Linked DNA regions of Homo sapiens: regions 2, 3, 4, 5 and 6 are each linked to region 1. Evidence: fine-mapped expression QTL. A gene starts in region 1. Each other region holds a variant in brackets. All regions are shown on one strand. Distances are from middle to middle. Region 1 holds the start of A1BG-AS1 (A1BG antisense RNA 1). Region 2 has its middle 11 kb from the start of ZNF132. Region 3 overlaps ERVK3-1 (endogenous retrovirus group K3 member 1). Region 4 overlaps ZNF8 (zinc finger protein 8). Region 5 has its middle 8.2 kb from the start of ZNF586. Region 6 holds the start of RPS5 (ribosomal protein S5).

What was found. PIP is the estimated chance that this variant, and not a neighbour inherited with it, causes the effect.
Region 2: its variant is fine-mapped to the expression of A1BG-AS1 in whole blood (TOPMed, PIP above 0.99).
Region 3: its variant is fine-mapped to the expression of A1BG-AS1 in lung (GTEx, PIP 0.98).
Region 4: its variant is fine-mapped to the expression of A1BG-AS1 in whole blood (TOPMed, PIP 0.95).
Region 5: its variant is fine-mapped to the expression of A1BG-AS1 in atrial appendage (GTEx, PIP 0.96).
Region 6: its variant is fine-mapped to the expression of A1BG-AS1 in whole blood (TOPMed, PIP 0.97).

Annotation. Positions count from the first base shown.
Region 1 is chr19:58,349,695-58,354,765 of GRCh38, reverse strand. It overlaps A1BG-AS1 (A1BG antisense RNA 1), which reads right to left and starts at 2,796. Exons shown (of 4, transcript NR_015380.2): 1 at 1,722-2,796; 2 at 1,292-1,387; 3 at 909-1,052; 4 at 1-397. A1BG (alpha-1-B glycoprotein) reads left to right here and starts at 1,274. Exons shown (of 8, transcript NM_130786.4): 1 at 1,274-1,362; 2 at 1,439-1,474; 3 at 1,569-1,838; 4 at 2,211-2,483; 5 at 3,079-3,375; 6 at 4,115-4,396. The coding sequence starts at 1,329. It overlaps ZNF497 (zinc finger protein 497), which reads left to right. Exons shown (of 3, transcript NM_198458.3): 3 at 1-409.
Region 2 is chr19:58,426,343-58,431,413 of GRCh38, reverse strand. It overlaps a transcript of ZNF324B not described here. Among named protein-coding and RNA genes, the nearest start is that of ZNF132, 11 kb to the left of the region's middle. The variant G/A (reference allele first, on the strand shown) is at 2,264.
Region 3 is chr19:58,316,740-58,321,810 of GRCh38, reverse strand. It overlaps ERVK3-1 (endogenous retrovirus group K3 member 1), which reads right to left. Exons shown (of 4, transcript NM_001396080.1): 4 at 4,999-5,071. All of the region lies in intron 2 of LOC105372480 (a long non-coding RNA gene), which reads left to right. It also overlaps the pseudogene LOC100887072. Among named protein-coding and RNA genes, the nearest start is that of ZSCAN22, 7.7 kb to the left of the region's middle. The variant C/G (reference allele first, on the strand shown) is at 2,491.
Region 4 is chr19:58,296,027-58,301,097 of GRCh38, reverse strand. It overlaps ZNF8 (zinc finger protein 8), which reads right to left. Exons shown (of 4, transcript NM_021089.3): 4 at 1-5,071. All of the region lies in intron 4 of ZNF8-ERVK3-1 (ZNF8-ERVK3-1 readthrough (NMD candidate)), which reads right to left. Among named protein-coding and RNA genes, the nearest start is that of ERVK3-1, 6.8 kb to the left of the region's middle. The variant G/A (reference allele first, on the strand shown) is at 3,134.
Region 5 is chr19:57,758,955-57,764,025 of GRCh38, reverse strand. No RefSeq gene overlaps it. Among named protein-coding and RNA genes, the nearest start is that of ZNF586, 8.2 kb to the left of the region's middle. The variant G/A (reference allele first, on the strand shown) is at 2,308.
Region 6 is chr19:58,382,656-58,387,726 of GRCh38, reverse strand. It overlaps RPS5 (ribosomal protein S5), which reads right to left and starts at 458. Exons shown (of 6, transcript NM_001009.4): 1 at 388-458. MIR4754 (microRNA 4754) reads left to right here and starts at 869; the gene lies at 869-957. RefSeq lists enhancers at 148-197, 391-685, 1,748-1,817, 1,838-2,057. The variant C/G (reference allele first, on the strand shown) is at 2,710.

The sequences.
Region 1 (5,071 bases):
GCCTCAGCACCTGGTTGTCTCTTCTGCAAAGAATGCATTCTCCCCCAGTCCACCCAGAACACACAGCCTCCATCCAGGTACTGGCTCTGAGCAGGACAGAGAGCATGCAGCAGGTGCTCAGCAATATGGAAATGGGACCAAACAGAGGGAGTCTCCACAGCTCCCCGTCCCTCACAGCAGAAGCCAGAGCCGCTGCAGTGCCCAGCTGGTCTTCATCACGTCTATGAGCTCTGCAATCGCTCTGCAGTCGCCTCAACTCCTGGTCTCCTCTGCTCCTTCTCACTGCACCCGCATCTCCCATGTTTGCACTGGCTGTTCCCTCTGCCTGGAATGCTCCTTGCCCAGTTATCCCACTGTCTTCTTTGCATCTGGCACACAGTAGATGCTCAATAAATGCCTGTGGAATGAATGAGTGGGGAGGATGCAGTGCAGGGGGCAGATGAGGGCTAGGCGGTTGCCCTGGGCCCTCACACTCGTAGCGGAGCTAGGCTGGGACACCCAGGGTGGGGACCAGACCTCCCCGGGTGGGAATGACAGGATGTCCATGGAGGCTGAGTGTGAAAGCACCACGGTCTCACCCCTGTCCTGTTCCATCCCAACAGGCTGTGGTGAGGAGAGGGGGAGGCAGGGGAAGCGGGAGGCCTGGCCTCCAGGCAGCAGGCTATAGCCACATGAGTGACCACCAGCAGCTCAGGTAACTGAGCACATGTCACGGGTAGGCCTGGGAAGCGCAGGTCTCAGCTGAATGACCTGGGTGGAAATCCGACTCCAGAGCCGTGGTGGGTCACACCATGCAGAATGAACCAGTGATGGAGAAGGAACCACAGTCCTCAGGAAGAGTGAGGGTGCACCTCCAGACAGCCCATGTGAGGGCAACCGCAGAAAGTCTGAAAAGAGGTGAACCCCACCTTTGGTGTCACATGTGCAGTGTGGTGTGACAGGGAGGGGCTCGCTGGGCTTCAGCCCCGGCACTCTCCACTTGACCTCAGCAGCTCCAGGTAGAGTGGGGAGAACTCAGCGTCTCCTTCTAGAACAGGTTCTAGGATCCATCACTGAAATGAGGATGAGGTGGTTTTAACATCATTTTATCACTCTTGATTTAGTTTATTAATCATACATGATTATTGATTATAATTGTTGCTGGGCATCCTGAGGCCTCAGAAGTTCACCCTTTGCCCTGACCCCATGGGGGCCCTGCCCCCGCCTTCCGGGAAGGACAAACACGGGAAGAGGTCAGTGCCCGAGCCACCCCACCGCCCTCCCTTGGGGCCTCATTGCTGCAGACGCTCACCCCAGACACTCACTGCACCGGAGTGAGCGCGACCATCATGTCCATGCTCGTGGTCTTTCTCTTGCTGTGGGGTGAGGCCTCCTGGGGTCTGGGTCCCTGGGGCGGGAGGGGGCGGGAACAGGAGCCTTACGGGGGCTGTCTCCGCAGGTGTCACCTGGGGCCCAGTGACAGAAGCAGCCATATGTGAGTGCAGGGGTGAGGTCTGGGAATGGTGGGCCCAGGCCGGGGGGGAGCCCTGTCTCTGTGGCACTGAGCTGATCCCAGCCACCCCTTGCAGTTTATGAGACGCAGCCCAGCCTGTGGGCAGAGTCCGAATCACTGCTGAAACCCTTGGCCAATGTGACGCTGACGTGCCAGGCCCACCTGGAGACTCCAGACTTCCAGCTGTTCAAGAATGGGGTGGCCCAGGAGCCTGTGCACCTTGACTCACCTGCCATCAAGCACCAGTTCCTGCTGACGGGTGACACCCAGGGCCGCTACCGCTGCCGCTCGGGCTTGTCCACAGGATGGACCCAGCTGAGCAAGCTCCTGGAGCTGACAGGGCCAAGTGAGCCGGGGCATGAATTGGGGGCCAGGAGGCAGTGGGTAGGTTGTTGACTGGGGGGTCTCCCTTCCTCCAAGTCACCCGATGTCTCTGAGCCCCAAGCCCCAATCTTCCCATCTGTCAAATGGGGATGATGTCTGTGTTGTAAGGAATACATGGTTGTGTCCCCAGCAGGCCCGGCATGCCGTACAGCTCCCACACACTCTTTTTCTCTTGCCGTATGCCTTGTTTCCACTGGTGCCTGCCTGCCTTTTCCCAGCAATGCCCTCCATCCCTGTCTCCTTCACAGTCTTATGAGTGTGGGGCCCAGGTTCTGCTGGGCTTCCCACGTCTCCTGTTATGCAGAAGCACTCTTCAACTCCACCCCACCCACAGAGTCCTTGCCTGCTCCCTGGCTCTCGATGGCGCCAGTGTCCTGGATCACCCCCGGCCTGAAAACAACAGCAGTGTGCCGAGGTGTGCTGCGGGGTGTGACTTTTCTGCTGAGGCGGGAGGGCGACCATGAGTTTCTGGAGGTGCCTGAGGCCCAGGAGGATGTGGAGGCCACCTTTCCAGTCCATCAGCCTGGCAACTACAGCTGCAGCTACCGGACCGATGGGGAAGGCGCCCTCTCTGAGCCCAGCGCTACTGTGACCATTGAGGAGCTCGGTGACTGTGGGAACCATCTCTGGGGGCTGCTGGGGGAGGAGGATACAGGGGGCATGACCACATTCATCCTGACCTCCATGCTGAATGTCCTTGCCCAGGACCAGGTCCAGGAAGCTGGCCACACGGTTGCCTGGGTCTGATGGTTGCAAAGGAGTTTGGGCAGAGGATGCCCAAAGAATGGAAGGGTGAGGCCGGGTGCGGTGGCTCACGCCTATAATCCCAGCACTTTGGGAGGCTGAGGCCAGCGGATCATGAGGTCAAGAGATCGAGACCAGTCTACCCAACATGACGAAACCCCGTCTCTACTAAAAATACAAAAATTAGCCAGGTGTGGTGGCAGGTGCCTGTAGTACCAGCTACTCAGGAGGCTGAGGCAGGAGAATCCCTTGAACCTGGGAGGCAGAGCTTGCAGTGAGCTGAGTGGCGCCACTGCACTCCAGCCTGGGCAACAAGAGCGAAACTCCGTTTCAAAAAAAAAAAAAAAAAAGAATGGAAGGGTGTTCCTGGGATTGCCACCCGGAGGGCAGAGGTCTGGGGACTGGGCAGAGGGCAGCTCCAGGGATGGGGCAGCCTAGTAATGCTGCCTGCATTGCAGCTGCACCACCACCGCCTGTGCTGATGCACCATGGAGAGTCCTCCCAGGTCCTGCACCCTGGCAACAAGGTGACCCTCACCTGCGTGGCTCCCCTGAGTGGAGTGGACTTCCAGCTACGGCGCGGGGAGAAAGAGCTGCTGGTACCCAGGAGCAGCACCAGCCCAGATCGCATCTTCTTTCACCTGAACGCGGTGGCCCTGGGGGATGGAGGTCACTACACCTGCCGCTACCGGCTGCATGACAACCAAAACGGCTGGTCCGGGGACAGCGCGCCGGTCGAGCTGATTCTGAGCGATGGTGAGCCGGGGCCAGCAGGGACAGGGACGCGGCTGGGTCCCTGGGGAGCAGGAGCAGTACCAGGTGTAGAGTCTGGGGAAGTGCAGTGCTCTGGGCCAGGGTCCAATACCAACTTTATCCGCCCACCCGCCGATTCAGGGTCCTAAACTGCAAATATGATGATGAGCGTGACAACCTTCAGGCCCCACAGGGAATAACTGGGTGAACAGGTCTGGCCCAGGCCACAGGGGGCACCACCTGGCAGGTCCCATCCCAGCTGCCAGGTCTAGGTGAGCACTGAGGGCCTCTGCTGAGGCAGCTCCTCCGCTCGCTTGCCTTGGACCTGATGGTATTTAGCAAACTCTGAGCACCGGACAGCGAACCCCATGCCCAGCGGACCACAGGGGCCCCTCCGTGGGGCGGGCATTGGGGCGGTGCTCAGAAGACGCTCGTGGAGCAAATCCACTACTGAGCGGCATCGTGCACCAGGCATCAAGCCATGCACAAAACATGTCCCCGTCCCCGCTTCCCGTCTGTGTCTGTAGACAAACAAATTACTAAGAAACAGTGAAAGGGTGCGTGTGAGATATCCAAGGACTGGGATGCAAAGGTGGGGCGGGCCCGGAGGAGGCGAGGGAGGAAGCTGGCCAGGTCATTGCGGGCAGAAGACTCAGCCAAGGCAAAGAGCGCGAGGCCAGACCACGCGTTAGGGCCGAGCCAGCCGCTGGGCGCCCGGGTCAGCCCGTGTGCTGCTCCGCAGAGACGCTGCCCGCGCCGGAGTTCTCCCCGGAGCCGGAGTCCGGCAGGGCCTTGCGGCTGCGGTGCCTGGCGCCCCTGGAGGGCGCGCGCTTCGCCCTGGTGCGCGAGGACAGGGGCGGGCGCCGCGTGCACCGTTTCCAGAGCCCCGCTGGGACCGAGGCGCTCTTCGAGCTGCACAACATTTCCGTGGCTGACTCCGCCAACTACAGCTGCGTCTACGTGGACCTGAAGCCGCCTTTCGGGGGCTCCGCGCCCAGCGAGCGCTTGGAGCTGCACGTGGACGGTGAGCTGGCGGGGCACCAGCGAGGGCGGGCGCGGGTTCAGTGCCCCTCGGGGCCTCCTGTCTTTCCCCTCTTTCCTTGGGCGTCCGACGGCGGCGCTCTGGGCCTTGGTTCAGCCCCCATCGCCTACCCCGGCGGGGAGCAGGCGATCGGTGGTCGAGGGTCTGGGGACGCCTGGAATTTCGGCTTATTTCCCACGGACGCAAGCCCGTAGGTCACGTGTAGCGTGGTGGTCGGCAGCAGGGAGGCTGGCCCCAGGTTTTCTTGTTCAGATCCCTGCAGCTCTGTGGCTGCCTTGTTTTATTACTGGCCATGTCAGTCGTCATACTGGACCCCCCGCCCCGGCCCCGGTCCCGCAGGCGCACGGCTGATGTGTCCTTCTCCCCATCCCCGCCGTCCCCAGCTCTGTTTGTCCCTCTGATTTCCTCATCGACGTCTCCAGGACTCAGAGCCCAGCAGAGCGTGAGGGCACAGGTCTGACCTCCAGATCTTGAGGTCGTACCCTTTGCTGGGAGCACCGTTTTCTCTTTTCTTTCACTTTCTTTCTTTTCTTTCCTGCCTTCCTTCCTCTTTCTTTCTTTCTCTTTCCTTCTTTCTTTCTTCCTTCCTTCTTTCTCTCTTTTCTTTCTTCTTTTTTCTTCTTTCTCTCTCTCTCATCTCTGCCCCCCAACCCCATC
Region 2 (5,071 bases), 77 kb before region 1:
CTGAACAGCAGTTTCAGTAGCCACTGCTGCTTCCACATCTGTCCTAGATCCCTCTCTGTTCTCCCTGCCTATGTGAATGTCACCTAACAGGCTCAGTAGTGGGATATGTGACAGGACCAGTACTCCATGACTGGTCGTTCCTCACCCTGACCATGGCACCCTTGCCCTGCCAAAGATTGTACTCCTGGCTGAACGTTAGGCAGTGTACTCCAGGTAGAAACCCCACACAAGGGAGTGGATCAAACCTTCACCAACAGTAGACCATTTATGGTGAAGACCACCTTTTCAGATGTGACATGGCTCACAGTAAGAGCACTTTTCAGTTCATGCACAGCAAAATTCATAAGTGAGAGGACTCAAGGGCCAGGCATTTGTGAAGGCTTTCCAGGGTAACTACCCCCTTCCAGCACTGGAGTACCAGAATAATGAGAAGCTCAAAAGAGAATGTGGAAAGGCCTTCCTTTCTCCATCACCAGAGTACTCATGGCACAGGGAAGCCATGAAGAAGAGCTGAGTGAGAAGATGCTGCCACACAGCTCTAACATCAGATAACACCGGGCAGGCCATGATAGGGAGAAGCCCTTCAAGAGCAGTGGCTATGGGAAGACATGAAGACTTTTGCCCTCTTCAACCACCTAAGAACCCACACTGAAGAGAGATCTTTAAATACTTGGTATGAAGAAAGACCCTCAAGAAGAAATCGATTCTTATCTATAACCAAAAAATTCACAGTAGAGAAAACCCCTGCATCTAAGGAATGTGGGATGGTCTTCAGTCACCTCTCCTATGTGAGAAAGCTATATAAAGTACCTATGGGAAAAAGGCATTACAAATGCAGTGAAAATGGGAAAGCCTTCAGCTATAGACACCCCCTTTTAAGAAAAATCACCAGAGAATTCACAAGAGAGTTATGGGCAACAAATGTGGGAAAGCCACAGCTCCCAGAATCTTAGGCGGCACTGTATTACTGCTATTGCAGAAGCCATCTGTATTAGTTACCTATTGCTGTGTAACAAATTACTCAAAACCTAGTGGCTTAAAACAATAGTCACTATTTCACAGTCTCTATAGGTCAGGAACTTTGGTGCAGCTAGCTGACTCCTCTTTAGGGTTTCTCACAAGGCTAACATCAAGATGTCAGCTGGGGGTGTATCATCTGAAGGCTTGACTAGGGAAGGCTCTGCTTCCAAGCAAACTCATGTAATTGGCAGCATTCAGTTTTTTGTGGGCTGCTGGACTGAGGACCCGTCTGTTGGTCTGAGACCTCCTCCAGTTCTCTGCCACATGGGCCTCTCCAAAATGGCAGCTTGTCAATCAAAGCTTGCAAGCTGATCATGCAGTGGAGAATACCAACAAGTCAGTCATTTGTAACCTAATAACAGAAGTGAGATCCCATCATCTTTGCTAAATTTAGTTAGAAGCAAGTCACTTGGTCCAGCCCACAGTCAAGGGGAGAGCATTACACAAGAGCATGAATACCAGAGGGCAGAGATCATTGGAAGCCATGTCCAAAGCTGCCTGCCATACTGTCTCATCTCTGCCACCTGGCAAGATCTCATGATATGTATCAGTCTCCCTCACTGTGCTAAGGGAAAGCAGACTATACTCCCTTTTCCATTCTCTAGAGAGAATTACATAGGCTTTGAGTACCTTCATTTTCTTTCCCACTGATGGCTTTAGATTTTGGTATGACAATTCTTGCTAAGATCTGAGCTGGTGTCTTCTGGAGCTTTCCAGAAAAGGTTTCTTGGCCGGGCACAGTGGCTCATGCCTATAATCCCAGCACTTTGGGAAGCTGAGGCAGGCAGATCATGAGGTCAGGAGATCGAGACCATCCTGGCTAACATGGTGAAAACCCACCTCTACTAAAAATACAAAAAATTAGCCAGGTGTGGTGGCGGGTGCCTGTAGTCCCAGCTACTTAGGAGGCTGAGGCAGGAGAATGGTGTGAACCTGGGAGGCAGGGTGTGCAGTGAGCCGAGATCGTGCCACTGCACTCCAGCCTGGGCGACAGTGTGAGACTCCATCTAAAATAGAAGAAAAGGTTTCTCTTCATGGACATTGTTTGCATCTACATGTGACACTTAGGAATGATCTGTTTAGTCTCAATCACTCACTCCTGGATCTGCCTGTCTCTCTCTGAGATAACAAAGGCCTTAATGTTTAGCCACCTGCATCAGAGTTGGTGAGGTGGTTTGAAACAATTCATCCTAATATAAAAAGAACAGCTTTTGTAAGGGGGCACTGAGTGTCTCAAACAGCC[G/A]CATGGGCAGGAAGAGTGCTCAGTCCAGTTTTGGTTGAATTTGTCTTGTTGCCCTAAGGCCTCCTATGAAAGACTGACAGGCTTGGACTGAATCTTGTGATCTGGACACCAAGGGTCACCTGTGGGCCCAGAGCTAGCTCTGAAGAATGGGGTAGTTTCTTTGAGAACCTCCACAGCAAAAGTTTGGTCCTCTGTTCCCAATGCATGTCCCACTTTACCAGCTACATCCCCCAGTACCTGCCCATGGCTCATGACTCATGAAATATAAAACTCAGTAGGCAGGCATAACTGGTTCAGACCTGCCAGGGCTATGTGGGAACTATCATTGGTACAAAAACTCTAAGTGTGGAGAAGACTGTGGTAGACAAGAGGGGACATGTCTGTTCTAAACGCACATCAGAAACTTCCAATGACTATGGCCAAGTGAGATAAGGGTGTACAGAACTTCTCAGGACATGCAGACCTATGTGTCACTCATAACTGAAATTCAAATAAATATTTTGTGGATTTCCTGTGGACTCCCTGGGCTGTTCATCTCATGGCCATCACTGCACAGGTAGGCACCTCAAGACAGAGAAGACAGAAATCATGGTCTGGAGTGGCTTATGTGAGTAGCCAGGGTTTCTTGAGAATCATATGGCCGTGGCCTTCATAATTCCACTTCTGGTGGCCACCAAGCAGGTCTGTCCCTCTTAAGGGGTGGGGAGACAATATGGTGGAGTCAGTACAGATTTCCCATATCTCCTGGTTTTCCAAGAAGAGCCAAATATTCAGATTTCTATGTGGCATGTGATTTTATAAATGTTGAAAATCATTTCCAAAAACATTTCAATGCAAACTCAGTTCACCAAAACTATAGGTTGGCTTTAGATATTTCCCTGGGTCCTCCTGAGGCCTAGGGGAGAAAAGACCGGAAATCCTCTGACATGAGAATCTTTGGCCTGTGGTGTCCATCCATACTGTATGATGGATCAGAGGCCACTGCAGCTGCCACGTCTCCTGGAAGCCCCTGAGGGGATGGACAATGATAACCACATTGTGAGCAGAAGCCACAACAGTTTTGCCGTCAGCAAAGTTTACAGCAGGGCTTCTCAAATACTCCCCAGCACAGTGAGGTGTCTGGGGGATACCTACCCTACTCAGGCCTTCCTTCCTGAGTGTAATGTCTCCAATATGGAAGATGCTAATGTCTCCAATATGTAAGACACATGTGGGATCAGAATTAAAGGTTAGCTGAGCCATATGGGGCTCAGCCTTCTAAGCAAATAAAGTTAGGGTAGACACGTCATCAGAGCTCAATCCTCTGTGTGAGTGGCCAAGATTAGATCTCATAAGATGGTGCTGGGCATGATTGTGGCATGCCTGTTTCCAGCTACTTGAGGCAGGAGGATCACTGGATCCCAGGAGTTCAAGACTGCAGTGAGCTATGTTTGCACCACTGCACTCCAGCCTGGGCAACATAATGAGACCTTGTCTCTAAAACAGGAAAAAAAAAAGGCTGGGCGCGGTAGCTCACGCATGTAATCCCAGCACTTTGGGAGGCCAATGCGGGCGGATCACCTGAGGTTGGGACTTTGAGACCAGCCTGACCAACATGGAGAAATCCCATCTCTACAAGAAAAGAAAGAAAGAAAGAAAGAAAGAAAAAGAAAGAAAGGAAGGAAGGAAGGAAGGAAGGAAGGAAGGAAGGAAGGAAGGGAAAGGAAAGGAAGGAAGGAAGGAAGGAAGGAAGGAAGGAAGGAAGGAAAGAAAGAAAGAAAGAAAGAAAGAAAGAAAGAAAGAAAGAAAGAAAGAAAGAAAGGAAAGAGAAAGAAAGAAAGAAAGAAAGAAAGAAAGAAAGAAAGAAAGAAAGAAAGAAAAAAGCCAGGCATGGTGGCGCATGCGTGTAATCCCAGCTACTCAGGAGGCAGGAGAATTGCTTGAGCCTGGGAGGCAGAGGTTGCAGTGAGCTGAGATCACGCCATTGCACTCCAGCCTGGGCAACAAGAGTGAAACTCCGTCTCAAAAAAATAATAAAAAATAAAAATAAAAAAGGAAAAAAAAAAGATTCCTAATACATGAGTAGAGTCCTACGTGTTTCTACTGAACCTGCCTTCTGATCTCCGACTGGGTCTCAGTATACAGCAGCCAACCTGTTAGGGGAAGATAGATGTTTGCCAATAATGCCAGAATATTCCAGGCAAAGTCCTGATGGCTGTGACTTTTGAGCTGTCCAGGTTACCAGCTTTTGTGGGATTCAGTGGCTCCACTGCTTTCAGACTATGCTCAAACCAAAAGGCAGTTGCCTTCAGCCCCTTGATGCAGTGTACTGACTACCCTGTTATTGTACACTCTGCTGTATGCAATGGTAGTTCTCTTCTGGAATCTACTGGGCAGTTCCTTGCCCCTGGGCCTTTGCTTGTGCCCTCCCACATCAGGGACACCCTTGAAAGGCTTCTCAACCTCTCCCAATCATACCTCCAGATCAGCTATACCTCTCCTTCATGCTAGTGTCAGCATCTGTTGATTCCCTCATCTCCAACTCCCAAGCTTTGAGTGAACTATCTGGAACATGGGGGCTGTGAAATCTGAAGAGCAGCAGATTAAGGCCAAGGGTGCCAAAACACTCAGTAACCTTCTCTGGCTTGGCTCAACTTGGACTCCTACTGCTAATAAATTGTGCGATCTGGGGCACAGACTCCCAAGCTTCAGCTGTCTCATCTATAAATCCATGAAATCTGTCTCACAGTGTCCACCAGAACTTCTGACAACACAGAAAACTCTCCATCAATATGAAGCCCTTTACACCGACAGTGGGAATCACTACAT
Region 3 (5,071 bases), 33 kb after region 1:
TGGAACCCAATCATTCCATTGTCTCCCATGCTCAATAGGACTTTATATTCTAGAACTGCCTCCTCAGTTCTAGAATTCCAGTAAATACCTCTGGGCATTGGTAAAAGGGAAGGAAATACTTCTGCCACCTTGGCCTTATCCATTAACTCAAGTATTTTCGTCCTGAAAAGTGAGTGCCTTTTAGCTAGGGGCACTGGGCAAGTGATTTAACCTCTCAAAGTCTCAGCTCCCTGATGTATGAAGTGGGAATAAAAATACATCCCAGGCCGGCTAAGAGGATGGAATGGGACAATCTACTTAAAGTGCTTCTAAAGTGCTCAGTAAAATCTTAACGAACATCATCACTGTCTCAACTAGTTTTAGTGACGTCCTCATGCTGAAGCTGAGGAACACACAAAATTTTCTTCTTAAAGAGCTAGACTCTGTGACACACACTTCAGCATATAAATTTTACCTTTTTGGTTCTGGGCAATAAAACCCCAAACTATATGGTCTACCTTAATACAAGGCACAAACAACTGCAAAAGCATCTTTTAAAAATATGTATTTTTTTGGGCGGGCGCAGTGGCTCATGCCTGTAATCCCAACACTTTGGGAGGCCGAGGTGGGTGGATCACGAGGTCAGGAGTTCAAGATCAGCCTGGCCAAGATGGTGAAACCCCATCTCTACTAAAAATACAAAAAGCTGGGTTTGGTGGCGGGGGCCTGTAATCCCAGCTACTCGGGAGGATGAGGCAGGAGAATCACTTGAACCCAGGAGGCGGAGGTTGGCAGTGAGCCGAGATTGCGCCACTGCACTCTAGCCTGGGCGACAAAGCAAGACTCCGTCTCAAAAAAACAAAAAAACAAAAAACAAAAAAACCCACATTTTTTAAATTTCATTTTTGTCTTGGCAAAAACTGAAATAAAGTCTTCTAGGACTGCTGAGAGGAAACCTGTTCATACCTGTGTACCTCCTACCACTTGGTTAGCATCCATGGGAATCTAATTAAAGTGGAAGTGGCCATTGTGCCCCTTGATAATTATGGAGAAGTATCTCCATGTGACATCTGAAAGACATATCCTAGGCCCACTCCCAGCTTCCTCACCCGCCCCGGTGACCCTGAAGGGAGAAATGTATAATAGGGGCTTCTCACACTGACCCTGATTTCCTCACACTCACAGTCCCTCTTCACCTGCCACCCCGGTGCAAAGGACAACACACCAAGGATAGATGGGAAGATCTCTGCCATATTTGGCACATGCCCAGTTCACTGACATACAAGAACCAAAGCGTCACTGAGGGCTTTCTGATATCCATGTATTCACATGGTTTTCCCTGGGAATGAATTCTCTGGTGCTGGGCCAGGAATCTGCTTTGGCGGAAGGCTTTGCCACACTCACAACACTCAAAAGGGCTTCTCTCCAGGGAATCCTCTCATGTAGTACAAGAGTTGTGGCCTCCTGGAAGGTTTTCTGACATATATGGCATATGAATGGCTTGGTACATGCATGCACATGCTGGTGCTGCGTGAGGTGTGTGCCACGGCTGAAAGGGTCGTTCCCCAGCGTGTACCTGGTAATACTCGGTGAGGTGTGACATCTGGATGCAGGACTTGCCACACTCATTCCACTTGTAGGGCTTCTCCCCATTGTGAGTCCTCTGATGGAGGGCGAGGGATGAGGTTTGCATGAAGGCTCTTCCACAGTCACCACACATGAAGGGCTTCTCTCCCATGCGGACTTGCTCATGCTGGGTGAGAAACTTGCTGTGGCTGAAAGTCTTCCCACATTTTCCACATGCATAAGGATGCTCGCCTGTGTGCACCCGCTGGTGTAGGACCAGGGCTGAGGAGTCACCGAATGGCTTCCTTTACTCACCACGTATGTACGGCTTCTCACCGCTGTGGATCTTGAGGTGCTGGGTCAGGTAGGACCCCTGGCTGAAGGCCTTTCCACATTCTGCACACACATAGGGCCACTCACCTGTGTGTACCTGCTGGTGCTTGCTGAGGGATGAGCTGTGGCTGAAAGCTTTCCCACATTCCTGACACGCATACAGCTTCTCTCCCGTGTGGCAGCGTATGTGCTCAGCCAGGGACAAGCTGGGGCTGAATGCCTTGCAGCATACCCGGCACTCGTAGGGCCTCTCACCCGTGTAGGTTCCGTGGCATGCAAGGAGGGCCGAGAAGTCAGCAAAGGCTTTGCTGCTCTTGGCAGGCAAATGGCTTTTCCCCGGTGTGGAATCACCAGTGCTGTACAAGGTGTGTGCTCTCGCTGAAGGTGCGTCCACACTCACCACACACGTATGGCTTCTCACCTGTGTGCACACGCTGGTGCTTGGCAAGGGATGAGCTCTCTCGGAAGCACTTGCCACAGTGGCCACACATGTAGGGCTTCTCGCCTGTGTGGACGTGCCAGTGCTTGACTAGAGATGAATTGTTGCTGAAGGTACACCCACATTCCTGGCATGCATACAGCTTCTCACTGGTGTGCTGAACAAGGTGACTT[C/G]TCTGTCCAAAGGCCTTGCCACACTCTTCGCACGTACAGGGTCTCCTTTTGTTGGGAATCTGCTGATAGCTCACAAGGCACGTGTTCTTGCCAAAGGTATCTTCCCACCCACTACATGGCAGTACACCCTCCCCAGCGTGGACTCCTTGTGGCTGATTAAGGTCTGGGAAACAGCTGCAGGCCTCCCCACATACACCCTCTCCTTGGCAGGAGCACCCCTGATCTAGGACGGAAACACACGTGAGATCGTTTTCCAGAATGTGGTTAGGGGTGGCTTGTGTCTCTGGGGGAGTGCCCTGATATTCAGTAACAAATGGATGCCAGCTGGAAATTCCTGCCAGGCTCCACTCTCGGCTCTTCATGCCACTGACTGACCATATCCCAGCTCTGGGCCTGTTTCCTAGTTTCCTCACTAAGCTGAGCACATGTACGTCTGTAAAAAATATACATGTATTTTTGAAAGCACAAAGTTTCACATCTCTGCCTGCCAGTCACTTACCAAACAACCTTTGGTTTAACTTTTCTGTGCCCCAGTTTCCCAACCTGTAAAAGAGGGTAATGATGATAGCTCCCCTTTGATTGGTTGAGAGTACCATCAAAGGTGTTTGCTGAGCAGCCTGACCTGCAGGAGGTGCTCAGGAAAGGGGAGCTGCTGCTGTCATTTGGTGGAAGTGGGTCCCCTTATTTGGCTAGCAGGGCCTGAACACTGCCACACTCCAACACATTGTCTCCACGTTAAGGAACTCAGCATCACACAGCAAGCCCTCGAGAAGCCCACAGCCAGAGGCAGTGTGGGGGCAGCAGCATAGATGGCTGTGGCTGCCTGTGGGGACCCAGCCTAGGTCCAGAGGAGGTACCCAGATGAGGTGGGGTGTCTGTGTGGACGGCTTTCTGTTTTAGAGGCAGGCGTCTGAGGCACAGCTCTTAAGCATCAAATCAGGAAGCCTCTTTCTGTGGAGCCCCAAGCCCAGTGACCCCCTTGCCTTCCTGGGAGTCAGGAGCAGAAGGAGGGTGTGCAAGTGGCATGGCTCTAGGCAGCAAAGATGCCATGAGGTGTTCGTGTTCTGTTTCACAGTCTTTCCACAGAGTGATGCCATTCCATCCTCCTGGGAGTCTGTCCCCATCATACTCACCATAACTCAAGGCATCTGCTAGCCAGATAAGGGGACCCACTTCCACCAAATGACAGCAGCAGCTCCCCTTTCCTGAGCACCTCCTGCAGGTCAGGCCACCCAGCAAACACCTTTGGTGGTACTCTCAACCAATCAAAGGGGAGGTATCATTACTCTCTTTTACAGGTTGGGAAACTGGGGCACAGAGAAGTTAAACCAAAGGTTGTTTGGTAAAGTGACTGGCAGGCGGGGACGTGAAACTTTGTGCTTTCAAAAATACATATACATGTTTTACAGAATTACAAGTGCTCAGCTTAGTGAATTTGGTAAATGCACAGCCCTGTGTAACTAGCATTCAAATTAAATTCTAGAATGTTCTGTGAGGATGGAAAAGTTCTGGAGTTGTGCTGTCCAATATGGCACCATCAGTGTCAGGTAGCTCCTGAGTACTGGAAACATAGCTGGTGTGACTGGGACATGGAACTTGTAATTTTATTTGAATTTAATCATAACTACCATATTGGACAGCGCAGGGCTAGGACATTTCAGCACCTTAGACAGCTCCCCTGTAGTAAGTAGCCCTTCCAGGAAAGGTGTCCCAGCCTAATTTTTTTTTTTTTTTTTTAAGACGTAGTTTTCCTCTTTTGTCCAGGCTGGGGTGAAATAGTGCAATCTTGGCTCATTGGAAGCTCTGCCCCCCGGATTCAAGCGCTTCTCCTGCCTCAGCCTCCCGAGTAGCTGGGATTATAGGCACCTGCCACCATGCCAGGATAATTTTTGTATTTTTAGTAGAGACAGGGTTTTGCCACGTCAGCCAGGCTGGTCTCGAATTCCTGACCTCAGGTGATCTACCCTCCTTGGCCTCCCAAAGTGCTAGGACTACAGGCATGAGCCACCGCGCCCAGCCCAGCCTCTTCTTGAACTTCATGAAAATTATGTGCCCTGTTATAGTCTGAGGCCTCAGCTCCATGCTATCAGGCTTCAAGGACAGCAGCCACAGGATACCTCTATGAGGACTATGTGAGAACAAAGTGAGATGTCAAGTGGGTGAGTGCTCTAAAGAGAAAAATTGATCATTCCTGCTGTACTGAATTCAGGTCCTAACAGAGACTCCCAGGAGGAAGGGCAGATGTGGGGCCTTTTGTTCCTTCCCACGAGACAAGAGTACTGAACAGACTATTTGGGCCCTGATTTGCCCATTACCCACACCTTCCTCCCCATCTTATTCCTAAGCTGAGAATGGCAAGTATGATGGTAGAGGCTGTCAGATCTAGGATCAAATCTTCACCACTCTCTGCTGTAATTCTGGGCTGCTCACCTCCCTTGGGGTCTGTTTCCTATCTATAAAATGGAACCTCCTGTGAAAAGCTTTTTGCTCATTAAGGAATGAATTACATTTAACAAAGTTTTGGATTTTATTAATAAAATGTATGGACATGTTTTTCTCTTGTTAGATAGGTACCTTTGTA
Region 4 (5,071 bases), 54 kb after region 1:
GGGTCTGAAGCCCAAATCTCAGAAGCACCAGACTGATTTGGTGGTGAGCAGCACAAAGCTAGGGATGTAGATGACACCTGGGGAGGGCGTGGAGCACAAGGTGGACTCTAGGACCCCAGCATTTAGGAAGGGTGACGGGAGGTTGAGAAGTCCCTGAAGAGTTAGAAGGAACCCCACAATGCAAGGAGATGGAGCTCTGCAAAGAGGTTAGCAGGCTTCACAGTCCTGGGGATGAAGAGAGACGACACCAGAGGTAGTACCTTGGACAGTGGTTGCAGTGGGTTCTGTGAAGCAGTGGGGGCGGACAGCAGGTCTGAGGTGTGAGCTGCCACCAAGGGAATAGGGAGCACAAGCGATTCTCCCAAGAGCTTGAAGGAGAAAAGCAGCAGATACGGCTAGCTGCCTCCATCATCCACCAAGGGAATAGGGAGCACAAGCAATTCTCCCAAGAGCTTGAAGAGAAAAGCAGCAGCTACGGCTAGCTGCCTCCATCATCCACTTCCCAGGACTTTTCTCTCCCACCTGTCTCCACCACAGAGGTTAGAAAGGTAAATACGAGGTTTCTAAGCCCCGTTGTTATTAGGGGTGGCCCCCTGACCCATCTGTGGCCAGTGAGACTAAGGGGGGCATGTGCTGCAGGCTTCTGGGAATGTTTTTCCTTTAAACACCATCAGCGGTAAGTGTTGGCCTGCCCATTCCCCCTTCTTTCAGTCTTCACTGTGGATGCAATGGCTGGAGCCATAGGAGTCTCCTCATGACCACAATGGAAAGGTTGAGAGATTGCAGAAAACATCGACTGTGACACAGCTGAGCCACTGAAAAGACAGCCTTTGAACAAAGCCTCATCTGTTTAAGCCATGGTCAGCTGGGTGCTGACATCAAATTCTAACTCCACCACTTCCTAGCTTGGGCTGGTTACTTTTGTTCTAGTTACCACTAACTTTTGTCCTGTGCCAAATTTTGCCTATCTATAAAATGGTACTAACTCACAGAACTATTATTGTGGCAGTGTCGGAGGGTGCAGCATTTAGCTATGCGAATGGAGGTTATCTAAGGAGACAGAAGTGGCGCAGTCCAAGGTAGGAGGCCAGAGTTGCTGTGAAAAGTGAGAGCTGACACGGCAACGTTTTGAGGACAACCCCGAAGAGGTAAGTGCAGAGAAACGAACTTGGGCCATCCACAGGGTCCTGTTGAACCTCTAGAGATGAACCACAAAGCTCTGGCTCTGGCATCCTGGAGGCCAGCTCTGCCTTGATTGGATAGCTGAGTTGTGACACTCCCAGCATCCAAAAAGCAAAAACGGACACGGGAAGTTCTTTTATTTTTTTCGAGATGGAGTCTAGCTCTGTCACCCAGGCTGGAGTGCAGAGGCACTATCTCAGCTCACTGCAAGCTCTGCCTCCCAGGTTCACGCCATTCTCCCGCCTCAGCCTCCCGAGTAGCTGGGACTACAGGCGCCCGCCACCACGCCAGGCTAATTTTTTGTATTTTTAGTAGAGACAGGGTTTCACCGTGTTAGCCAGGCTGGTCTCGATCTCCTGACCTCGTGATCTGCCCATCTCGGCCTCCGAAAGTGCTGGGATTACAGGCGTGAGCCACCGCGCCTGGCCTGACACGGGAAGTTCTGATGCTAATGCGTTCCAATGCTCAACCATTCCAACATGGTTATTCAAATTGCTGTTTTGGGGCCAGGCGCGGTGGCTCACTCCTGTAACCCCAGCACTTTGGGAGGCCGAGGCAGGTGGATCACGAGGTCAGGAGATTGAGACCATCCTGGCTAACAGGGTGAAACCCCGTCTCTACTAAAAACGCAAAAAATTTGCCGGGCGTGGTGGCGGGCGCCTGTAGTCCCAGCTACTCGGGAGGCTGAGGCAGGAGAATGGCATGAACCTGGGAGGCGGAGCTTGCAGTGAGCCGAGATCGCACCACTGCACTCCAGCCTGGGTGACACAGCGAGACTCTGTCTCAAAAAAAAAAAAAATTGCTGTTTGGCAGGGTGCATTGGCTCACACCTGTAATCCTAGCACTTTGGATGGCCAAGGTGGGAGGATCGCTTGAGCCCAGTTTGAAACTGGCCTAGGCAATGTAGTAAAACCCCATCTCTACAAACAATTAAGAAATCTGCTGAGTGTGGTGGTGCATGCCTGCAGTCCCAGCTACAGGGGCGGCTGAGGCAGGAGAATTGCTTGAACCTGGGAGGTTGCAGTGAACCACGTGACAGAGCAAGTCTCCATCACAAAAAAAAAAAAGAAAAAGAAAAAAGAAAAATTCCAACCAAATGCACTGTGTGGATCTTGTTTAGATTATGATTACTATGAAACAAATAGAAAACAAAATTTATGAGGCAACCCAGAACATCTGAACACTAGGTATTTGATGATATCTGTTTAGATGTGATAATGACAATATAGTTCTACTTGAGATTTAACAAAATTAATTTTTCCCGTTTCATCACAGAAATTCAGTGAAAGTAGGCCAGGCACGGTGGCTCATGCCTGTAATGCCAGCATTTTGGGAGACTGAGGCGGGCAGATTACTTGAGGTCATGAGTTTGAGACCAGCCTGGCCAACATGGTAAAACCCCATCTCTACTAAAAATACAAAAATTAGCCGGGTGTGGTAGCGCACACCTGTCATCCCAGCTACTTAGAGGGCTGAAGCATGAGAACTGCTTGAACCCGGGAGGCGGAGGTTGCAGTGAGCCAAGATTGTGCCACTGCACTCCAGCCTGGGCGACAGAGCAATACTCCATCTCAAAAAGAAAAAGAGGGCCAGGCGCAGTGGCTCATGCCTGTAATCCCAGCACTTTGGGAGGCCGAGGTGGGCGGATTATGAGGTCAGAAGATCGACACCATCCTGTCTAACATGGTGAAACCCCATCTCTACTAAAAATACAAAAAAGTAGCTGGGCAAGATGGCGCACACCTGTAGTCCCAGCTACTCGGGAGGCTGAGGCAGGAGAATGGCGTGAACCGTGGAGGTGGAGGTTGCAGTGAGCCGAGATCACGCCATTGCACTCCAGCCTGGGCGACAGAGCGAGACTCCGTCTCAAAAGAAAAAAAAAAAAAAGAAAAGAAAAGAAATTAAGTGAAATTAGCTTTTCTTTTTCTTTACTGCATTTCCCAGTGGAGAA[G/A]AATATGAACAACCAACCTCAGGGCTACTGCCCTGCTTTGAACTCAGGCTCAGCAGTTTTACCTGCCATTGCTTTCACACTATCAGTGCACAGCAAAAATGTGAAATGACAGCTTAGTATGATTGTGAAAATGGTTTTGTCCCAGTGGACAAACATGGTTATATATATATCCAGGGAAGGAGAATGGTGGGGAGGTAGATGGGAGTACCAGCAAAAATATATGACTCATGTTTGAAAATGTCCACAATACATCCTTAAAGGTTACTCAGAAAAATAAGTGGCTGGGCACAGTGGCTCATGCCTATAATCTCAACACTTTGGGACGCCAAGGTTCGAGACCAGCCTAGGCAACACAGTGAGACCCTGTCTCTGCAAAAAATAAAAAAAATCAGGAATGGTGGCACATGCCTGTGGTCCCAGCTACTTGGGAGGCTGGGGTGGGAGGATCACTTGAGCCCAGGAGGTCGAGGCTGCCAAGTGAGCAGTGATTACAACACTGACTCCAGCCTGGGCAAAAGAGTGAGACTCTGTCTCAAAAAAAAAAAAAGGATTATCTTCCTTATTTCACATCAATTATGAATGCTGCAAAACCGTAAAGGATGTACTAAAAAGTACATCATGTATAAACTAGCTAATGATGCCATCTGTTAAAATCAAGCTTATATGATTTCTAGTCTAGTCCAGCCCTGATTAATCAATTTGAAGGTTTTTTTTCTTTTCTTTTTTTTTTCTGAGACAGAGTCTTGCTCTGTCACCCAGGCTGGAGTGCAGTGGTGCAATCTCGGTTCACTGAAACCTCTGCCTCCCAGGTTCAAGCGATTCTCGTGCCTCAGCCTCCCCCAGGTAGCTAGAATTACAGGCGCATGTCACCACACTTGGCTAATTTGTGTATTTTTAGTAGAGATGGGGTTTCGCCATGGGCCCAGGCTAGTCTCAAACTCCTGACCTCAAAGGATCCGCCCTCCTCAGCCTCCCACAGTGCTGGGATCACAAGCGTGAGCCACCACAGCTGGCTGCAAGTTTTAAAAATGTCAGCTACATTTCTGGGCTGGGTTTATACCCAGGTGGCTTCTCCACCTTGGCACTATTGACATTTGAGCTAGAGAATCCTTTGTTGAGGAGCTGTCCCGGGCACTAAAGGATGTTGAGCAGCGTCCCTGGCCTCTACCCACTACATGACGGCGGCACCCTTCCTCCAGGCACAGCAACCAAAAATGTCCCTAGATGTCACCAAATGTGCCCTGGAGGCAAAAGCACCACCAGTTAAGAACCTCTGGCTCAGCTGGGCATAGTGGCTCATGCCTGTAAACCCAGCACTTTGGGAGGCCGAGGTGGGTGGATCACGAGGTCAGGAGTTTGAGATCAGCCTGGCCAACACCCCATTTCTACCAAAAATACAAAAATTAGCTGGGCGTGGTGGCAGGTGCGTGTAATCCCAGCTACTCGGGGGACTAAGGCAGGAGAATTGCTTTAACCTGGGAGGCGGAGGTTGTGGTGAGCAGACTGCGCCATTGCACTCCAGCCTGGGTGACGGAGCGAGACTCCATCTCAGACAAAAAACAAAAAAAAGAACTTCTGGCTCATAGCAACACCAGATGTTTTTCAAGAGGAGCTGTGACACTCCCCTGCACGGAATGCTGTGAAATTTCGTGGGGGCTGGTCACGTAATTGGGTTGGGGGTGTGGTTGAAATGTGGGCAGGAGCCATGCATGCTGCCAAGATGGTGAGGAACAGAACTGCCCCCAGTGGACCACATCAACAGATGTGGAATAAGCAGTTTTCAGGGTATGAACTGAGAACCTAACTGGACTTCACACATAAGCACAAACTAATTGCTGCATGCTTGGAATTTACCCAGAATTTCCCAGAAATGCAATAGCATATTATGTTGTTAAAAACTTTTCCAAGAGTTAGTCACTACTTTGGAAGGTCACGTTC
Region 5 (5,071 bases), 590 kb after region 1:
GTACATTGGATAAAAGAGTGTGGGGGTTTAGAACTACTGGTTGATGAGGAATCACAGTAGTATTTTTTTTTTTTTTGAGACAGAGTCTCACTCTGTTGCCCAGGCTGGAGTGCAGTGGAGTGATCTCAGCTCACTGCAAGCTCCGCCTCCCAGGTTCACACCATTCTCCTGCCTCAGCCTCCCGAGTAGCTGGGACTACAGGTACCCGCCACCACACCTGGCTAATTTTTTTTCTATTTTTAGTAGAGACGGGGTTTCACCGTGTTAGCCAGGATGGTCTCGATCTCCTGACCTCGTGATCTGCTCGCCTCGGCCTCCCAAAGTGTTGGGATTACAGGTGTGAGCCACTGCGCCCGGCCGAATCACAGTAGTATTAATAGTTCTCAAATCTTGTATAAATCTTCATCCTTTCCTGTGAGGTTTTGTGTCAGGAAGATGGGACTATTAGGACTGGTGGAAGGGATAATCAATCCCTTTTCAAGGTAATCTTTGGTTATTTGTTTTATTCCTATTATAGCTTCTTGTTTTGAGATGATGTCTCCCTATGTTGCCCAGGGTGGCTTCAAATTCCTGGGCTCAAGGGATCCTCCTGCCTCAGCATCCTGAGTAGTGTTACCTGAAAAATACCAGGTTCATTCACCTGGTGCATAACAAATGACTTTCCATGAGAACACAGGTTTTTGTTTGTTTGTTTGTTTGTTTTGAGACGGAGTTTCACTCTTGTCACCCAGGCTGGAGTGCAATGGCGGGATCTTGGCTCGCTGCAACCTCCGCCTCCCCAGTTGAAGTGAATCTCCTGCCTCAGCTTTTGGAGTAGCTGGGATTACAGGCACCCACCATCATGCCCAGTTAATTTTTGTATTTTTAGTAGAGGCAAGGTTTCACTATGTTGGCCAGGCTGCTCTTGAACTCCTCACCTCAGGTGATCCATCCGCCTCAGCCTCCCAAAGTGCTGGGATTACAGGCACGAGCCACCTCGCCCGGCCAGAGAACACAGGTATTGATCAATACTTTTATTACTTGGCTCAAGTAAAGAGGACACTGGGAGTATTCTCCAAAGCAGTGTCTCCCTGAGGACAAGTAACAGGAGAGTTTTATGGTATAATGGTGATGGGAGAAGGTGCATCAGTGCATGTAGAATTGGGGTCCCAGTTGCACAGATGCAGTGAGTCATACCAGCACATAGAAAGCATGTTATGGTAATGAAGCTATAGCTCCTTCCAGAGTGGAGACTTCAGCATGTTAATAAGGAAAGTTAACTTGGGTTCATCTACACTGCTTGGGGTCTGTCAGGAGCTGTTTTAGCCCAACAAGGTGACTGCATTCAAACCATGGTTTGGAGAGGTACAGGCAGAAGGGGAGGAGGCTGTAAAACAGGGTAATTGCTCAAGTTGATTATATTCCTATAATCCATGGAGATCCTCCCTGTCTGCTTACAGAGGCTAAAACTACAGGTGTGCAACACCGTACCCAGCTTATAGCTTCCTGCTTCAATGAATACTGTTTAATATTGGGAAGTGGTTTATTTGGAGCCACCTGTATCTGTACTGGTGTGGCCATTAAAATTTTCCCTAAGTCTGTAGACAATTGACACTGTCACCCGAAAAGCGGTCTTGATCCAGACCTCACGAGTGGGACTTTGTCTCAAAAAAAAGAAAAAAAAAAAAGAATTAACAGAATTGACCAAGTTGAGCCGGGCGCATTGGTTCATGCCTGTAATCCCAGCACTTTGGGAGACCAAGGCAGGTGGATCACAAGGTCAGGAGTTCAAGACCATCCTGCCTAACATGGTGAAACCCTGTCTCTACTAAAAATACAAAAAAATTAGCCAAGCGTGGTGGCAGGCGCCTGTAGTCCCAGCTACTCGGGAGGCTGAGGCAGGAGAATGGCATGAACCCGGGAGGTGGAGCTTGCAGTGAGCTGAGATCACACCGCTGCACTCCAGCCTGGGCGATAGAGTGAGACACCATCTCAAAAAAAAAAAAAAAGAAAAAAAAAAAAAACAAGAATTGACCAAGTTGAGGAAAAAATCTCAGAGCATGAAGGCCGGCTCTCTGAAACAACTCAGGGAAAATAAAAAACAGGCCTGGTGCGGTCGCTCACATCTGTAATTCCAGCACTTTGGGAGGCCAAGGCGGACAGATCAAGAGGTCAGGAGTTTGAGACCAGCCTGGCCAACATGGCGAAACCCCATCTCTACTAAAAATACAAAAATTAGCTGGGCGTGGTGGCAGGCGCCTGTAATCCTAGCTACTCGGGAGGCTGAGGCCGGAGAATTGCTTGAACCAGGGAGGCAGAGGTTGCAGT[G/A]AGCCGAGGTTGCGCCATTGCACTCCAGCCTGGGCGACAAGAGCAAGACTCAGTCTCAAAATAAAAAAAAGAAAAGAAAAGAAAAAACAACACAGAAGAAAACCTTCAAGAAATATGGGATTATATAAAGTGGCCTATGACTCTTTGGCATGCCTGAGAGACAGGGAGAGAAACCAAGCAACTTGGAAAACATATTTCAGGATATCACTCATGAAAATTTCTCCGACCTCGCTAGGGAGGCCAACATTAAAATTCAGGAAATGCAGAGAACCCCTGCAAAATACTACAAAGAAGACCATCCCTGAGACACATAGTCATCAGATCCTTCCAGGTCGAAATGAAACAGAAAATATTAAAGGCAGCTAGATAGAAGGGACAGGTCACCTATAAAGGGAACCCTGTCAGGCTAACAGCAGACCTGTCAGTAGAAATCCTACAAGACAAAAGAGACTGGATCCCATATTCAGCATTCTCTCTTTTTTTGATTTTTATTTTTGAGACGGAATCTCACTCTGTCACCCAGGCTGGAGTTCAGTGGTGCAATCTCGGTTTACTGCAACCTCTGCCTCCTGGGTTCAAGCAATTCTCATGCCTCAGCCTCCCAAACAGCTGGGACTACAGGCACATACCACCACAACTGGCTAATTTTTTGTATTATTATTATTTTTTTAGTAGAGACAGGGTTTTGCCATGTTGGTCAGGCTGGTCTCAACCTCCTGGCCTCAACCGATCTGCTCACCTTGGCCTCCCACAGTGCGGTTAATTCTTGTGATTGCATTATGAAATTCTTGTAGAGCATTTTTCAGCTCTATTAAGTCAGTCTGGTTCTTTCTTATAAAGGCCATTTTGTCTATCAGCTCCTGTATTATTTTATTGTAATCAATAGATTCCTTGGATTAGTTTTTGACTTTCTCCTGTATGTCAATGATCTTGATTCCTATCCATATTTTGGATTTTATTTATGTTATTTCAGCCATCTCAGTCTGGTTAGGAACTACTGCTGGGGAACTAGTGTGGTTGTTTTGAAGTAAGAAGACACTCTGGCTTTTTCGGTTACCAGAGTTCTTGCCCTGGTTCTTTCTCATCTTTGTTGGCTGATATTTCTTCAATCTTTGAAGTTGCTGAACTTTGGATGGACTTCTTTTTCTTTTATCCTTTTTGGTGCCCTTAAGAGTTTGTGGTATAATGTGGCTCCAGTCAACTGTCTTAATTTCTGGAGCATTTTAGGGGTCCAAGGCTCAGCTCAGGACTACTAGACTGTGTGCTCTAATACACGGGGCCTGGTATCAGGCATCCAGCTTTGTCCTATGATCCCTGGAGGTCAGAAACCTGCCATGCTGGAGGGTCAAGTTGTTCCCAGACTATTGGTAACAACACTCTGAAGGGCAGTGCCAGCCCCAGTGCTTAGGGTGGTGGCAGCAGGATCCATCCTTGTTCCCACATGCCAGCAGCAATGGCAGTGGTGGGGTGTACGTTTATTGGCTGCGATGGAGTGCTGGTGGGTGTAGGGGTGCCAGCCTCCACGTGAGTGTTCACAGTGCTGGTGGTGGCAGCACAACATGGGGGGGTAGGGAAGGGGGTTCCATTGATGTCCCAGTACACATTCACACCAGCAGTGGAGTTAATATGGAGGCAAGGTGCTGGCAGGTGCAGGACTGTTTGTACCCTCTGTGCATGCATTCACGTGGGTAGCAGCTGATACTGGTGAGTGGAGTGTGTCTGCTCGTCTGTGTAGTTTTGTGCTGGTCCAGGGGTGGGGTGCTGGCAGGTGCGGGCTGGCAGTCTCTGGGATCGCAAATGCTCTGACAGCAATGGTGGTGCAGCGAAAAGTTGGGGGGATGAGGTGTGCTCACACTGGCAGCTGTAGCATGACAGGGTGCACATGCACACGCATGCTGGTGGAAAAGAGAAGGCAAGGTCCACTTGCATGCACATATGCTGGCAAAGCAACGTCGGGGGTGGCCATAGGTGAATGCATGCAGGCAAAGTGTCTCAGAGAGGCCGCAGTTTTGGGAAGGTGCAGGTGGGCTGTTGCACGACTATGGGATTTATCAACTGCAGTTCACCAGCACAGGAGCTATGATGTACACCCCCATAAGGGACCCCACCTGGGCAACCGAGGTCGCACTGCAAGCAGGTGTGGGTAGCCTGGAGCCCTGGGAGAGGCCAGCTGACCAAGAGGTGCTCAGGTCCAACCATCCCCAACTTATCGGCAAGAACGCCCTGCACTGATCAGGTCTGACTTCCCTAGGGCTAAAGTCTGTTAGGGAAGCAAGGCGAACCTTGAAATATGGGCGTGTCTAGCTGTGCTCCACTAGAGATGCTCCCACCCCAAATCCTCTGGGCTCTGCACTGGCTGGAGTTCTGTCCCTACCACTTCTCTAAGCAGCTCTCCCTGCCAGCTCAAGTGTTCATGGGGGTCATTGAGTCTCCTGCTGGCAGGTTTCCAAAGTTTCTTTGTGCTGAGCTGCCTTTAGCTGGAGGAGCAGTAACACAAGTACCCCTGTGCCACCACCAATGGGACTATGTGGGGTCAGACCTGTAGCCAGCAGAGAACTGGGTGCTGCCCAAGGCTCATACTGACCACTTCCTGGCTACTCCCTGTTTGTTCAAGGCCCTAGGACTCTACAATCAGCAGGGGGCAAAACCAGCGAGGTTTATGTCCTTCCCTTCAGAGTGGCAAGCTCCTCCCCATCCTAGGCACATTCAGAAAAGCCATCTGCGAGCCAGAGCCTGTAGTGGGAAACCTTAGGAATCTATCTGG
Region 6 (5,071 bases), 33 kb before region 1:
AGGACCACGGTAGGTACCGTGTGGCACAATCAACCCAAAGGTTTCGATTCTTGACCGACAGTATGAAGGCTCTAGGGGCTGCTATTACGGGGGGAAAGTTACACAGAGCAAAAGAGGGCATCGTGTCCCTAAGAAATGGAAACTTCCTATCTCAGAGTACAACCGCATAGTTCAAACCAAGTTCCCCAAGCCCCGCTATGGGGAAAAGCTAGAAGCGGCGGAGCACCAGAAAGAAGTCAAGAGTAACTCGGCCCGCGCCCGTTTCTTCTACATTTTCTTTTCCAGAGACAGAAATGAGACCTAATGAGAAAAGGCCCAGGCCGCGGGGCACTATCCCCGAAAGACCATGAACCGTCCCTAGGATCCCCGGCCCCGCGGCGGTCTCACCTGAGAACACAGCCTGAGCGTCTCTGTCACTCGGCGTAGACCACGCGCCGCCCTGGTACAGACAGGAAGAGGCCGCGCGCCGCGGGCCAACACTTTTAACTGGGAAGAAAACTTCCGGGTCAGCACGGGTGACGCTTGCGTAAAAGGCCATCGTGTCCCTATAGACCAATCCGGAGGAAGGTTGTAGAGGAACCTTTTGGGCTAGACGGAATGGGTGCAGCCCAAGCGCATGCGCAGTTGCAGAAGCGGCCCTAGAAGCGTGCCTGGCGGATGTCCGCTACCCCGTAGTTGCCCTGTCTTGTGGGCGCCTGCAAAAGCGCAGAGATTTCCGTGAGACCAACGCAGCCATGTCTAATAAAGAAAAAAGTCTGGCCAGCGCTCGCTTCTTTGTTCAGCTGCTGACCTTAAATCCCACCTGCCGCGGGAGTAGCCAGTTCAGTTCCCTCTGACTCCTCGCCGCGGCCACAGCCGCCTCACCGGCACGCGCCTGATGCGGACCTGGGTTAGCGGAGTGAGGCCCAGTGGTCACCGCCGCCCTCCGCAGGTCCAGGTTGCCGTGCGCATGTGCCTGCCACACGCGGCCCCTCCCCCACCGCCCGGCCCAGGAGCACCACGCTCGCGAGCCCCGGATCCCGAGCCTCTGGCTGGGCCTGTTTCCCTGCTCGACCTTTCCTGCCATACCACGCTGGGTTCCCCCACAGCCTCCGCGCCCTTCACCTCTGCTATGCAGTAATCTCGCCCGTGGAAGAGGGGAGACCGCCGGCACGAGGGCCCGGGGTTGCGGCGGCGGGAGCAGCGCGACCCGTCTCTGGGTGGAGCGCGGAGGTAGCCTACAGGCTACGCGCGGTGTCCGGGAGGAGGGGGTCGGCAGGTCGGGGACCCTTCGTGTTTGTCCTTGTGTCCTCCACGGCCGGGGAGCCCGCGCGAGGGGTTGCAGCCCCCTGCCCTCAGGGCTCACGTCACGAGGCCCTCGTGTCTGCAGACGTGGCTCTCAGGGGTGCCTCTTGAACTGGCCGACCTCTCCAAGGGTCAGAAACGTAGGTTTCTGGCCAAAGGTTGAAAGGAGGGATGGAAGATTTAGCCATGAGATGAAGGAGATTATTCCCGCCAGCACACAATCCCCTGCCCCCCAACTTCTGTCCCTTCCCCCAGCTGCCTCTGAACAGGTAGGGCCTCTGAACAGCTCAGCCCTGGCTGGGAGCAGACAGCGAACCCTCTCACAGGGCCTGAACTATTGCGTGGGATTGAGGATGTGGGCCTTCGACCCGGGGTCCTCATCCGTGCGTGGGGTTGGCACGGTAGTGAGTGCCCCAGCTCACTCTACTCACTTGGCCACCCTGGCAGCCAGTGTGGACAGTCTGCCTGCCCATGACCCCTTCATACCCCTCTGCCTGTCCCAGCCTCTTAGATCTAGGCTCATGAGCAGAACTGGGACTTTCCAGAGGTAGCAACTACTTTGACTGTGTCTCTGCCTGCAGCAGGCATAGACATAACCTTTACGAGGCGACTCCAGGACCACCTGGGGCCGCCCTGTCTCTGATGCCCATCTCTGCCTCCAAGGGGTTATCCCTCCAACTCGGGATCCGAAGGGCCCAGCCACCTGACCCAGGTCCCAGGGCTGGGCCTGCCCCCTACTCCCATCCCTGAGGCGTGCACATAGCAGGTGCCCAGCAGCTGTGTTTCTTCACTGCCTGACTGTAAAGGCTCTTCTTACCCCAATTCTGGGGCGTTTCTGTCCAAATATGCTGAGGACTCCCCACAGTGGGCCCTTGGACTGTGGTCAGTCACAGCTCATGAAAGGACACATGCCCTGAAGCTGGGCTGGTCAAGGGGTCAGACCTCAGCCTCTGGTGAGGGGCACGGCCTACTGCCACCGCCTAATGGCCTTTACCCCTGCCCTCCATCCTGTGCAGAGTAGCAGCCTTGGGGCTCCCACTGGGGTCTGTGTGGTTGCAGGAGGGGCTAGGTGGGCTTCTCCCTGGTCTTGAGTGAGGGGCATGGGGGTGCTGGTTGTAGGGAGGGTGGGAGAAAACAGGCAGCACTCATCAGGACAGTGAGCCCACCCCTCTGAACCTGTTTTCCCCTTCAGTGTGGAAATGAGAATGCAATGAGGCAACGTCAATGTGAACCCTGTGGCCTGGCTACCATGGTCATTTGATAATGGACATCTTTACAGACCTCATGAGAATGACTCATCGTGCTGCAGAGGGCAGGTGCCCTCAAGTGTGGCGTGGTGAATACTGCAGAGCCGAGACTCATGCACCCCCCACCCCCGCCACCAGGTCCAGGGTGGTCCAGCCTCCCCAGGTCCCCAAGGTGCTA[C/G]GATAAGATGCAGAGTCTGACCTCATAGATCTAGGGCTGCTGGTGCTGTGTTCTTCAGACTGGATGAGGACCCCAGAGACTCTGCAGAGATCTACCTCACTTCTGGTACATTGTGTCCATCCTGAGTGGCCGGCCCCAGACTGGACTCCTCACTTCTGGGAAGGCACCCTCTGGGCCCTGCTGGGCCACCTGCCCACTCTCCAGGCAGTCACTTTGCCTGTCCACCCTACCAGCCACAGTCTTACTGTTAGCTGATCTTACATCCTTGTGATGGCTCCTTTTTTTTTTTTGTGACGGAGTCTCACTCTGTTGCCCAGGCTGGAGTGCAGTGGCGCAATCTTGGCTCACTGCAAGCTCCGCCTCCTGGGTTCATGCCATTCTCCTGCCTCAGCCTCCCGAGTAGCTGGGACTACAGGCGCCCGCCACCACGCCCGGCTATTTTTTTTGTATTTTTAGTAGAGATGGGGTTTCACTGTTAGCCAGGATGGTCTCGATCTCCTAACCTCGTGATCCGCCTGCCTCGGCCTCCCAAAGTGCTGGGATTACAGGTGTGAGCCACCGCACCTGGCCGTGATAGCTCCTTAATGCCTTTACTGGCACCTTGGTTGTCTGTTGAAGTCCCCAGCCTGATTATCAACTCGTTTGGAGTGTGCTGGATTCAGTCCACCCAGTTGCCTGGCAGAGCCAAGCCTGGCCCTGCCGCATCCCAAACTTGATCTTGTGCCCATGGCTGATACTTCATGGGCTACTTTGGCCTAGCCACTGTCTGCTTCTATGGGATGCCCACCTGTAATGGATTGAATGGTGGCCCCCAAAAAGGTAAGTTCATGCCCTAATACCCAGACCCAGCGAATGTGACCTATTGGAAAAAAATCTTTGCAGATGTAATTTAGTCAAGGATCCCAAGATGAGAGCATCTAGGATTAGTAGGGTGGACCCTAAATCCAATGACAAGTGTCCTTATAAGAGACAGAAGAGGGCCGGGCATGGTGGCTCATGCCTGTAATCCCAGCACTTTGGGAGGCCGAGGCGGGCACATCACGAGGTCAGGAGATCGAGACCATCTTGGCTAACACAGTGAAACCCCATCTCTACTAAAAATACAAAAAAATTAGCCAGGCGTGGTGGCGGGCGCTTGTAGTCTCAGCTACTCGGGAGGCTGAAGCAAGAGAATCACTTGAACCTGGGCGGTGGAGGTTGCAGTGAGCCAAGATCGCACCACTTCACTCCAGCCTGGGTGACAGAATGGGACTCCGTCTCACACACACACACACACAAAGATTCTTAAGGAAATGTGGCCGAGTCATCCAGGATGCTTCAGCCACTGGGGTTTGCTTTCGTGGCTCACCAGCACCTTCTCCCCTCCTGGGAACTGCCAACTTCCATTTCTCCTCTGTTCTTCCAGATCCTACAACCAGGATTCTGTGTTGGGGGCCAAGATGCCCTGCTGAAGCCTCTATTCCCTGAGGCTGCTTCGCAGTAAGCTACCCCAGGCCCTCAGGAGAGGTGTGAAATGGAGCAGAGGCCCTTTGCTGAAGACAGCATAGAGCCAGAGGGGGACCTCTGCGGAGGGATGGCCGGTAGCAGGACAACTCTCCTGGGTGCAGGGTCCCAGGCCTACAGACATAGAATGAGCCCCAGACTGGGGACCTGTGGGATTGGTAAAGTTGGACCCCTTGGGTGGGAGCCCCACTGGAGCTTCCTCTCCAGGTCCTTGCCTGATTCAGTCTCATTCCTGAAATCGCTCCTGTGTAACCATTGTCACAAGATGCTTCTCTGGTGCTGCCCCTGCATGAACCCTGCAGGGTCCACTTAGACAACAGGCTTGTGTAGAAGTGAAGAAAGCCTACAGACTGTCACAGCCCCCATAGCCGGTCCCCTCCAGACAAGTCCCCCGCACCTGTGCCTGCCAAGTGGTTAGGCCTTTCATTGGTGCTTCAAACTCCACTCCAGGGCTGCCAGTCACCCCATGCCAGCCCTGCAGGGACAAGGCCTTTGTGTGGTGGCCAGGCCTGTGGTACCACCAGAATCTTCACTCCAGAGGGAGGCCCTTTCTGTGCCTGGGAGTGGGAAGTTCTTCCACATAGGCTCAAGACTCCTCCAGTAGCAGTGCATCCACAGGTGTGAGAAATCCTACTTGTGTCAGGCCGGGTGCAGTGGCTCATGCCTGAATCCCAGCACTTTGTGAGGCCGAGGCGGGTGGATCATGAGGTCAGGAATTCAAGACCAGCCTGGCCAAGATGGTGAAACCCCATCTCTACTAAAAATACAAAAATTAGCCGGGCGAGGTCGTGGGCACCTATAATCCCAGCTACTCGGGAGGCTGAGGCAGAGAACTGCTTGAACCTGGGAGGCGGAAGTT